3 linked regions of the Homo sapiens genome follow. The protein of the gene in region 3 interacts with the protein of the main gene of each other region in a pairwise test. Each region holds a gene or a part of one and is shown on either strand. Other genes may lie near its edges.

Region 1 (3,655 bases), on a different chromosome or scaffold from region 3:
AATGCCTTGCTCTTCATTGCCTCTCAGTTTTTGCATGAGTTTCTCCTATGGTGAATACATTAGGAATGTTTTGGCTACATTTCTCAGAAAAGTGGCTGATGGTGGCTTAAACATCAGCATAAGGTATCTTATTCTCTTACATAACAGGTTTGGTGATAGGTGGTTCAAACTTTGGCTTAGAAACTCAGTGTAGTTTTCAATCAAGGAGATTAGATTGACATTTCTGCAATTTTCTAGCCTTACTCTGAAGGTCACAAAATGACTCTGGCAGTTTCAGGAATTAAGTCAACAGGCCAGCATCCTAGTCTGAAAAGAATGATCATAAACATAGGCTTTCTCTTCATGATTCTGTGTCAGTTTGCACGGGGGGCAAAAAAAGTCCTTAGGTAGAATATGTTGGCCTTGGAAGAGAGGCTGAGAAAGGGAAATAGATTAGGATCCATCAGAATTTATCCCTTGGGGCTGGATATATTGCTATGCCACACAAAATCAAGGTCATATTAGCTTTGAAATTGTGGAGAATGGCTCCTGTGTAGGCAACTAACAGAGTCTGCTATACTCAGCATAGAATACCATTCCTTCTTGTTGACTTTCTTGTAATTTTTATTTCTTGAGACAGGGTCTCACTCTATTGCCCAGGCTGGGGTACAATAGCACAATCATAGCTCACTAAAGCCTTGAACTCCTGGGCTCAAGTGATCCTTCCACCTCAACCTGAGTAGCTGGGCCTACAGGCACACACCGCCATATTCAACTAATTTTTTAGTTTTGTAGAGATAGGGTCTCACTATGTTAACCAGGCTTGGCTTTCATTTTTTAATACGAAGACTCATTTGTTTTGTAGCCCATTTCCTCTGAGAGCCTTTCTTTGATCCTGCCTTTATTCCCTGCTAATCTGGGTTGGCAGTCTAGCCTACATACATTCTCATATCATAGAATTTATGATGCTCCAATCATCTGGTGTGTTTTTTTTTTTCCTCCTGTGTCTTCATCTGGCAGTGAGTTCCTTAATGACAAGAGATTGTTCCTTTTCTCTCTGTGACTCCCAGTGCTTGCCGTAGGATAGATAATTTAAGGATGCTTATTTGATGACTGACAATGAGGGAGGAAGCTGAGCCAAGCCTCCTTTATGACATTTTTCTCCACAATGAGAAAACTTTTGGAAAAAACAAAGCAAATCTAGAATCCTCTGTTCAACTCTATCCTACTGATCTCACTTTCTTTCTCAGTCTCTTCCTACAAGGTGCCCTTTCCTCTGAAGGGAGGAAAGTGTACCAATCATCTATACCCTGACCCACATTATTCACAATAGTCATGTGCCATTTCTTACTTTCCCTGCGACATTTGCATTTCTTTAGGGCATTTTAAACTCAGAACCTAACACAATACTGAATCCGTAATATATAGTCGGTAAAGCTTGACATATTTTTGGAGTATTTCTTTTGAATACATATTATATATTCCAGAACTCTATAGCTAGGGATGTGGGTAGGATTAATACTTGCTTTGTTCTCATTAGCCAGTGAAGTTCTTTGGTTGTTTGAGATTGTGGAGTTTTCCTAAATGAAGGCTAGAATAATTTCTCATTTCTATTATTTTTTTCAGGTCTTTGGCTCAGGCGTTGGGGTAGTCTCTGTATGTCAAGGAGTACAGATTGGACTATCTATGGCTATTTACCTAAAGCAAGTCACAGCCACGGTACTTATTAATGGGACCAACTTTCCTTTTGGCATTCCACAGGTATATCATGGTCAGATCCATCAGCCCCTTCCCCATTCTGCACAATTAATATCCACCAATGCCTTGGGGTTACTAGAGCTCTATCGCACTTTTGAGACAACTCAAGTTGGGGCCAGTCAATATTTGTTTCCTATTGAAGAGGCCCAGGGGCAATTCCTCTTCATTGTAGGAGAAGGTGATAAGACTATCAACAGCAAAGCACACGCTGAACAAGCCATAGGACAGCTGAAGAGACATGGGAAGAACAACTGGACCCTGCTATCTTACCCTGGGGCAGGCCACCTGATAGAACCTCCCTATTCTCCTCTGTGCTGTGCCTCAACGACCCACGATTTGAGGTTACACTGGGGAGGAGAGGTGATCCCACACGCAGCTGCACAGGAACATGCTTGGAAGGAGATCCAGAGATTTCTCAGGAAGCACCTCATTCCAGATGTGACCAGTCAACTCTAAGAAGACTAGATATTCCTAGAAAATAAAGAAGCAAATCTCTTTACCGGGACCTTCTCTCAATTTTCATGGCGGAATGTCTCCCCCAGCTGCCACACACACATTTTGTATTAATTTTAATGATTAAAAAGAGCATAGGGTAAAAACCTGATATTTCACTTATACTGCATAACAAGCTAACCAAACTGGACATGGTGAATAAATCATAAAACAAATCATTTTACTTATTATTTACATGACTTTTCTTTCCATCAGGTCTTCTAAATAGGACTGAGGTATAGTACACTGGCAAAAATAAGAAAAGGCAAACAAGAATAGCACCAAAGTAACAGATATAAAACCAAATACCATGTCAGAAAACACTATATAGTAAGAATTTATCAGATTAGAGCAGCAGGAGAAAATTAATACTAAATTATAATCATTTTAGTGATATTTTTCAACTTCACCACAGTAACTTTGCAACATCATTTTTCATTTGTGGGGTAGTAAAATTCATGTCAAAAAGGAAAGAAGGAATGGAGGAGGTCAGTTAGTTCATTGCAATAAATTACCTCTTCAGTTCTTAAAAACATGCCCATTGGCACATAACTGAGACATAATAACTAAGACTGGAAGAGCCTTGGTTTAAGTTATGAAGCAAATTAAAATGGAAAATACAAGAAAATAGAACCAATTAGGTTGAAAATGCCCCTTACTGAAAATCTGTATTAAAAATAAAATTAATAAAAGTAAAAAATAAAAATAGAAACACAACTCTACTAGTACAGGCTAGCCTGGGGAGTTTGATAAACTGAGTGATTGGGTCAACTATCACTGTACTTCCATAATGAATTTCTTCAGTCATGTTAGAGTAGCACATGAATGTGAGCTCTATAAGGACAGGTACTATATTTCCGTAAGACCCAATAGTTACTGTACATCCCATAAATAAAAAATACTTTAGTTTGCTAACCAACTGAATATATGAGGACTGCATGTAATTCAACCACATGGTTGTTTGCTGTACAGTCCTTTGCAAATATTAAAAAATTTTTTTTGCTATAAGGCTTTGATCATATAGTCCTCATAGCAACATAACTACCATCTAGCATGTACCACATTTTGCAAGACTTTAAGTTCAACATTCCAAACTGCCAATTTGTATTATGTCCAAATGCAGTATCCTTGAGGAATATAGTGGGTCAGTTAAATATCTAGAGACATACAAACATCTGCTAATTCATCTCATTGAGATGGATCATTCTGATCTCCATCATCCACCCACTTTTCATCAGCTTCTCCTACTTCATTCTCCTCATAGTCTTTATCATGAGGGATTCTGTATCCTGTCTCTCATCTACACTTGCTGGCCTTCCTGGTTGTGATTTATTGGAACAGTCTACACAAAAACCATAGGGTCAAGATCCATGTCTTACTCCAACACTGGCTGCTAACATGATCTTACATACCATACATTTGCATT
Region 2 (3,655 bases), on a different chromosome or scaffold from region 3:
AGCATCCCTGCAGAGGACACTCTGGATCCCAGAGGATAAAGTGGCTTTGACTATGAATGCACCACAGAGATCTCATTGTTTGACCCCAGGGAGGAAGAGCAGCCAAGAGTGAGTCTATGCAAGAGTCTGCAGATAGAAATCTTCTCAGCATCAGGACAGCAGGGAAGCTGTCCATCAGGGGCTTTGTTAGTTGACAACTACATCCCAGGCACGTTTAACAGGTGGCTAAGGAAATAAACTATTCATTAAGTAAATAACCAGGAAGGCAACTGCCAGCCCCAAGCTGATCCATCGCCCTGCTCTGTCTATCACTTTCATTGAGGTGCTAATACTCTCAGAATCCCCGTGCTGGGACACTTTTTTGGCACAGAGGTAGAATTTTTATTGGTCAGAAATACCTGGCCTTCCTGCTTCCTGGGGTGGGAAGGGAAGAGAGGGTCAGCAATTTTACAAACCTAAGCACTAAAGCACACCAAAATTCAGAATAAAGTTTCAATACTGAGTTCGCTTAAGAACAACCACTTAGGTAGAAATGAAACCTAATTTCATCTTGTTCCCTATCCTTCCTAATTTTATCTTGTTCCCTATCCTCCCTCCCCCTAGCTCTTCACACCTCCACACCCCAAAACACACACCCAAATTCCCTCTCTCCCTCACAAGAGGGGAATGCTTGCATATTCAAATAACCCGCCCACATAGAGTCTAGACCCTTCCCTCACCACTCAAGACCTTAAAGAGGAAGGCTCCCACCTACCACCAATCCCCACCAAAAAGCCTTTGGGGAAAAAAACTCATTTGAGAATGCAATGGAATTTTAATTTTTCTTTCCTTTTTATCACATCCAAACCATTCATATTAACAGATTAACAAATTAACATTCATTTATAATTATTCCCAACAAATTAAGTTGTTTACAAGTTTCCCTCCATTGTCCAAAATATATGTCCTCATAATAATGCTGTAAGCATCAGGTATCACTTGGTTCAGAACTGGAACACAAGTATCTTATCTGCATGCTGGGTATCCCCTGCACTTAACCATCATAAGCCCTCATTCTGTTGCTTGCTCTGATTGCCTCTGATATCGGCATACTATTCCATGTTAATAACAAATAGGTTGAGTATCCTTTTTCTGAAATGCTTGGGACCAGAAGTGTTTTGGATTTCAGGTTTTTTTCGAACTTTGGAATATTTCATATACATAATGAGGTATCTTGGGGATGGAACCAAAGTCTAAATATAAAGTCCATTTATGTTTTGTTTTATACATACTTTATACACATAGCCTGAAGGTAATTTTTTTTTTTTTGAGACGGAATCTTGCTCGGTCTGCAACCTCCGCCCCCGGTTTCAAGCGATTATCCGGCTCCAGCCTCCTGAGTAGCTGAGATTACAGGCATCTGCCACCATGCCCAGCTAATTTGTTTGTATTTTTAGTAGAGACGGGGTTCCACCATGTTTGTCATGCTGTTCTCAAACTCCTGATCTCAGGTGATCTGCCTGCCTCGGCCTCCCAAAGCGCTGGGATTACAGGCATGAGCCACCGTGCCTGGCCCACCTGAAGGTAATTTTACACAATATTTTAAATAATTTTGTGCATGAAACAAAGTTTGTGTCAAGTACTGGTGTGTGGAAATTCCCACTTTTGGCAATATGTCAGTGCTCAGTTTCAGATTTTAGAGCATTTTGGATTTGGGATTTCTTGATTGGAGCTGCTGAGCCTGTATCATCATTTACTTAATTATTATACTACTGAACATTTAGGTTGTTTGTGATTTTTCACTCACAAGAGTGGTGCCACAGTTAAAAATTTTCATAAGCATAGCTTTTTCCTTTTGGACTATTTCTCGATAATAGATTTCCAGAAGAGTATTACTGAGACATCAAAGTTACAAACATTGTAATAATTTGATACATACGGTGAAAAAATTTCTCAAAAATGGCCGGCCATGGTGTCTCATGCCTGTTATCCCAGAATTTAGGGAGGCCAAGGTGGGTGGATCACTTGAGTCCAGGAGTTCAAGACCAGCCTGGCCAAAATGGCGAAACCCCATCTCTACTAAAAATACAAAAATTAGCTGGGTGTGGTGGTGCATGCCTGTAATCCCAGCTACTCGGGAGGCTGAGGCAGGAGAAATGCCTGAACCCTGGAGGCAGAGGTTGCAGTGAGCCTAGATTACACTACTGTACTCCAGTCTGGGTGACAGAGTGAGACCCTATCTCAAAAAATAATAATGATTTCTCAAAAGGATAATAACCATCTTGCCAGTTACTAAGCAGATACTTTTCTCAAATCCATTGTTCACTTTTCTTTCTTTCATTTTTCTTTTTGAGATGGAGTCTCACTCTGTCACCCAGGCTGGAGTGCAGTGGCGCCATCTCAGCTCACTGCAACCTCTGCTCCTGGGTTCAAGCGATTCTCCTGTCTCAGCCTCCTGAGTAGCTGGGATTACAGGCATGCACCACCACACCCAGCTAATTTTTTGTATTTTAGTAGAGACGGAGTTTCACCATGTTGGCCAGGCTGGTCGTGAACTCCTGACCTCAGGTGACCCAACCACCTTGGCCTCCCAAAGTGTTGGGGTTACAGGTGTGAGCCACCACGCCCAGCCTGTTGACTTTTATTTCGAAAGGAGTTGGTACATTTCAGGAAGTGACCAACAGGTCTTGGTTTGGTGCTAAGTAGGAGACAACTTAGAGCTCCACAGATCATAGAGAATCCCAACCATTTTTGCCTCCATTCCTATCTTCACCTACATTCCCACACCCACACCACCCACCAAAACACTTCTGGTCCCAGGCATTTCAGAAAAAGGATACTCAACCTGTATGCAGATATCAGAGGCGATCAGAACAAGCAACAGAATGAGGGCTTATGATGGTTCAGTGGCGGGGGGAACCCAGCATGGACATAAGATACCTGGGGGAGTAGGAAGATAGTTCACCAAAACAATCCTGACAGCCCCTCATCATTGGGACCATTATTTATCATTAGATAAATAATGACGGCTGACTGCTCATTATTTATCATTAGATAAATAATGACTGCTTATTATTTACCCCCTAATTTCTGGACATTTCCTTGCCTTCTGCTTCACTGTTCCCTGAGCCTGATTGCCTTCCCTCTCTCCCTCTTACACGTGCCTTATTTCATCTCATCCCTAAGCAGCTTTTTCTAGCTTAGTTCTAATGTCTTCCTCTCAGTCAGTACGCACTGGGATCCAGAAGCACGAGATACTAAAGTGTTTAGGGTTATTTCCTGCCCTGAAGCATCTCAGCCTAGCAGGAAAACAGGCATGCAGATGCAATTTACTTTTTTTTTTTTTTTTTTTGAAACGGAATCTCGCTCTGTCGCCCAGGCTGGTGTGCAGTGGCGCAATCTCAGCTCACTGCAAGCTCCCCCTGCTGGGTTCACGCCATTCTCCTGCCTCAGCCTCCCAAGTAGCTGGGACTACAGGGGCCCGCCACCACGCCCGGCTAATTTTTTTGTATTTTTAGTAGAGAAGAGGTTTCACCGTGTTAGCCAGGATGGCTATGATCTCCTGACCTCGTGATCCGCCCGCCTCACCTCCCAAAGTGCTGGGATTACAGGCGTGGGCCACCACGCCTGGGCCATTTTTTTTTTAAACCTGCTCCTTACACATTTATTACATCAT
Region 3 (3,655 bases):
CAAGGCATCATGGGGGGTCTTGCCACATGGGCTGTGACCGGGTTCCACTATGAGCCAATGGGCAGGCCCCTGAAGGGCCACAGGAGAAAGGAGTCAGTGCCTTCCTCCATCACCTCCTGCTCTGGGCCTCCTGTCCTGACACAGCTGTGTCCACCACTGCCCCAGCTCTCACTGGGCTCCAGAAACACCCTGTCCTCCTCTAGCCCTTCAGCCCTAGAGGTGGCTTTCTGTCGTGTCTTGGGTGCCTCAACAATGTCCTCTGATGGTTTCCTTAACCCTGCCCCACCTAACTAGTCACTTGAAAAGTGCAGGGTGCTCTGGGGTGGGTGGAAATGTGTGTTTATCTGTGTGTGTGTGTGTGTGTGTGTGTGTGTGTGTGTGTGTGTGTGTTGCAACAGACTGAATGTTTCTGTCCCCATAAAATTCCTATGTTGAAATTGTAACCCCTGATGTGATGCTTTTAGGAGGCGGGGCTTTTGGGAGGTAATTAGATCATGAATTACCTCCCTCCTGAATGGTATTAGTGCCCTTATCAAAAAGGCTGGAGAGAAACCACGCCCTCACCCCTTCAACCACGTGAAGACCCAGGGAGTCTGCAACCTGGAAGAGGAAGAGGGTGTTTCACCCGGAGCCCAGGCATGCTGCACCCCAGTCTCAGACTTCCAGCCTCCAGAACCCTGAGAAATAAATGTTCATTGTTTACGCCATCTAGTGCATGGCCATTTGTTACAGCAGCCCAAACTGACTAAGACTTATCTATACACACACACTCGCCCCTTATAGAGAGGGAAAGGCTACTATAATGATTATTTACCAAGCATGAAGACAGTTCAACCCAAAGCAGGATGTGTGTGAATTCACACCACCAAGAGCCTGAGATGTAATCACTACTACTTTGCTTTTGCTCAAACTGCTTTAAAAAGCAGGGACCCCAGGCCCACACAAATCTACAAGTCCTTTTAGCAAATCAGTCAAAGGGACCTTCCCCTGGCTGGACCCAGCCCTGGGTGCATGGCTTGACGCAGGGCACACAGACCAGATTTCAGCCCCTTTCACTCTCTCACGCAAGCTTACCATGTGCAGGACACCCCACCACTGCCAACCGCACCCACATAGGAGCCCCTTCCTCCTCCTCCAACTAACCCACCCTCTGGAATCCAAGCCCTCCTCACCCGAGAGCCTCCCACCTGCCACTCCTGCCAGGTCACTGCAGGCCCCATGAGGTCAGGCAGCCTGTCCTACGGCCGCATCCTCCCCACCCACTCCCACATTAGCAAAACAAGTACAAAGGGAAGGAAGGACACAAATGGACCCTCCTTCAACATGGATACCAGGAAAAACTGTCATTCCTTACAGAATGGCTTCTCACCAATGTCTTGCCAAAACTTCTAGCCCTGTACAAGTAACACAGCCTGGCCAGTAACTACCTCTAAGTATTCCCAAATGTGTTCACCTCCCGCTCTTTTCACCAAAGCCTCCAAATATTGGTGAACTTACAGAGTGAAAGTGCTGATAAATTATAGCGAGGAAGCAGCAATGTGCATGTCAACAAGCATTTCAACAGAAAGATCGGTATGAATTACAAGGCGGGTGAAAAAATGAAACTCACTTTCATAACTTTCTTAACTCAAAGCAAAGGAAAAACAAGCAATGATTATTTGTTTTTAAGAGGAAAGTATGATGCCAGTTTGTCTCATCAGCCACCACGCAAAGCTGTGAAAGATGGCGTGAGGCAGTGCCTGGTGCCCGCACACAGGGGCTGCTCCATGTATTTGATTTCACTTAATGAGAGATGTGCACTGCCCATGGAGTTAAGAAGAAACTGAGCAGATCTGCTCTGTCCAAAATCTCCTCCAGGAAGCTCCCTCTGACATCAAAACTAGCTGTTATGCAAGAAATCACTCAGAATCAGAATCACAGGAGACAGAACATTGTGCTAGGAAACTCTGGCTGCCACCATTTTACAAAGTTCAACCTACTTGTCCTGAACTCTATGGCCTGGGGCTGTCCTTCTGTGCCATTCGCTGCTTGGGAATAAACGGTGGCATTGTATCGGGTGCCAGGCTCTAACCCGACAAGCAGGACTTCCGTGTCTCGGGACTGCTGGCCGGAGGATGGGTCCACAGGTCCCACGAGGGACTCATCATGCACAGGGGCGGTGGGGCTCCCTGCCCGGCTTCTCTCTGTATTGCTGGCATCTGTTTCAAGCACAGGAGACAAAAAGACATCAACCACAAGAGGGACACATCCCCCATTTTCCTTCGGAGCCCCAACCCCATCAGATGGCCATCAGACAGTGGCCACAGTTGGTGCTCCATCAATATCTGCTCCCTTCCTCCTCCAGAGAGAGAGGCAGCCCCATAAAAAGGCCTGATAGCTCCATCTCCATTTGTACTGTTATTCCAGTAGCACCACAGATATCTGGTGCTTCTCTTTCAAACTCTGCTTATTTCAGGTCATTCTCCCTTCTTTGGGTTGTTATCTTCTCCTGTCCCAGCATGGATTTCCAGGGACAGCTCTGTGAAGCAGACTTTGCTAATCAGACCCCACTCAAGACACGTTTCCCTGGACCAGACCCTGGTTGGTGGGGCAGCTGGCTGGTGGGGCAGCTGCAGGGTGTGAAACAGGAGCAGCTGGGCTCCTTAAGTGTGCAGAGGGAGCTGCTCTGAGAATGAAGCTGATGAACAGAAAGAAGCAAGAGGGAGGGATGAGAATTGCCTCATCTCTTTCTCTAAGGCCTCCCGCTAGCAGGAAAATCCACATGAGCCAATAAATTGTTCCTTCTGTCTGAGCTATCCAAAGTCTGGTTTCTGTCACTCGCAAGCAAGGATCCTGACACCCACTCTGTAGCTCTGTTTTCTTAAGTATAAAATGCAGATTAAGTGCCTGTCCTCCTCATGGAGTTATCCTGGGGATCCTCTGCAAATGCTATGAAACCTGCAAATGACAACGCCAACATCAACCAGCAGACGTGATAAGTTCCTCTGAAGGCCCAACTTGGGTTGACACAGCTGTTAGATAGAAAGCTAAAGGGGCCTCTAACTTTCCTGGGTGCCAGACTCTAAAAAGTTTCAATTCCTATTGCTGTTCTCAGCCCCAATGTGTTCCCCTGTAAAATCAGAACACGTTTCCTTCCTTCCTCATGCAGGTGGGGGATCAAACTAAAATGTGGAGGAAAAGCCCTTTATAAATTCTAAATCTCCATACACATGGAAGAGCAATTTATTTTTTAGAACATTTAGTTACTGAAAGTAAGAACCAGTAAGGGAGACGGAAGGTACCCTTTGTAACTCACCCAAGCCACCTTCTGTGCCCAAGGGGTCTCCCTTTGTCTTATTTGATTGTAGAAGATACGGGTTGATGTTGTATTGAACCCCTGGCTTCAGGCCCGAGATATTGACCTGAAGTCTTGAGTCTTGAGTCAACTCCTCATGGCTTCCAATGCTTTCAAGAAGAACCCGGCAGGAGGCAGTGCCATTGCCATTGCTCCAGGAGAGAGCAGCCTTCCTCACACCCGTGAGGGCAACACGGAGATCAGAAACTGGGATCGGCTCTATTTTAAAAATACAACATGCATTAATGGAACAAGATATATGCAGTCACCTTCATTAAGAATGACTGGGGTTCAGTGCTGGGAGCGGGTTTTAAAAGAAAA

What was found. Proteins that work in one complex are often made in the same cells at the same time.
Region 1: the proteins of PTPRJ (region 3) and BAAT interact in a two-hybrid assay, tested with the Homo sapiens proteins (one large-scale study listed by BioGRID and IntAct).
Region 2: the proteins of PTPRJ (region 3) and PRDM14 interact in a two-hybrid assay, tested with the Homo sapiens proteins (one large-scale study listed by BioGRID and IntAct).

What each region holds. Positions count from the first base shown.
Region 1 is NC_000009.12:101,360,966-101,364,620, reverse strand, and holds part of BAAT (bile acid-CoA:amino acid N-acyltransferase), read left to right. Parts: intron 1-1,605; coding exon 1,606-2,193; 3' UTR 2,194-3,655. UniProt on the Homo sapiens protein: Catalyzes the amidation of bile acids (BAs) with the amino acids taurine and glycine. More than 95% of the BAs are N-acyl amidates with glycine and taurine.
Region 2 is NC_000008.11:70,061,212-70,064,866, forward strand, and holds part of PRDM14 (PR domain zinc finger protein 14), read right to left. Parts: intron 1-3,655. UniProt on the Homo sapiens protein: Transcription factor that has both positive and negative roles on transcription. Required for the maintenance of embryonic stem cell identity and the reacquisition of pluripotency in somatic cells.
Region 3 is NC_000011.10:48,123,511-48,127,165, reverse strand, and holds part of PTPRJ (receptor-type tyrosine-protein phosphatase eta isoform 1 precursor), read right to left. Parts: intron 3,554-3,655; coding exon 3,296-3,553; intron 2,199-3,295; coding exon 1,980-2,198; intron 1-1,979. UniProt on the Homo sapiens protein: Tyrosine phosphatase which dephosphorylates or contributes to the dephosphorylation of CTNND1, FLT3, PDGFRB, MET, KDR, LYN, SRC, MAPK1, MAPK3, EGFR, TJP1, OCLN, PIK3R1 and PIK3R2. Plays a role in cell adhesion, migration, proliferation and differentiation.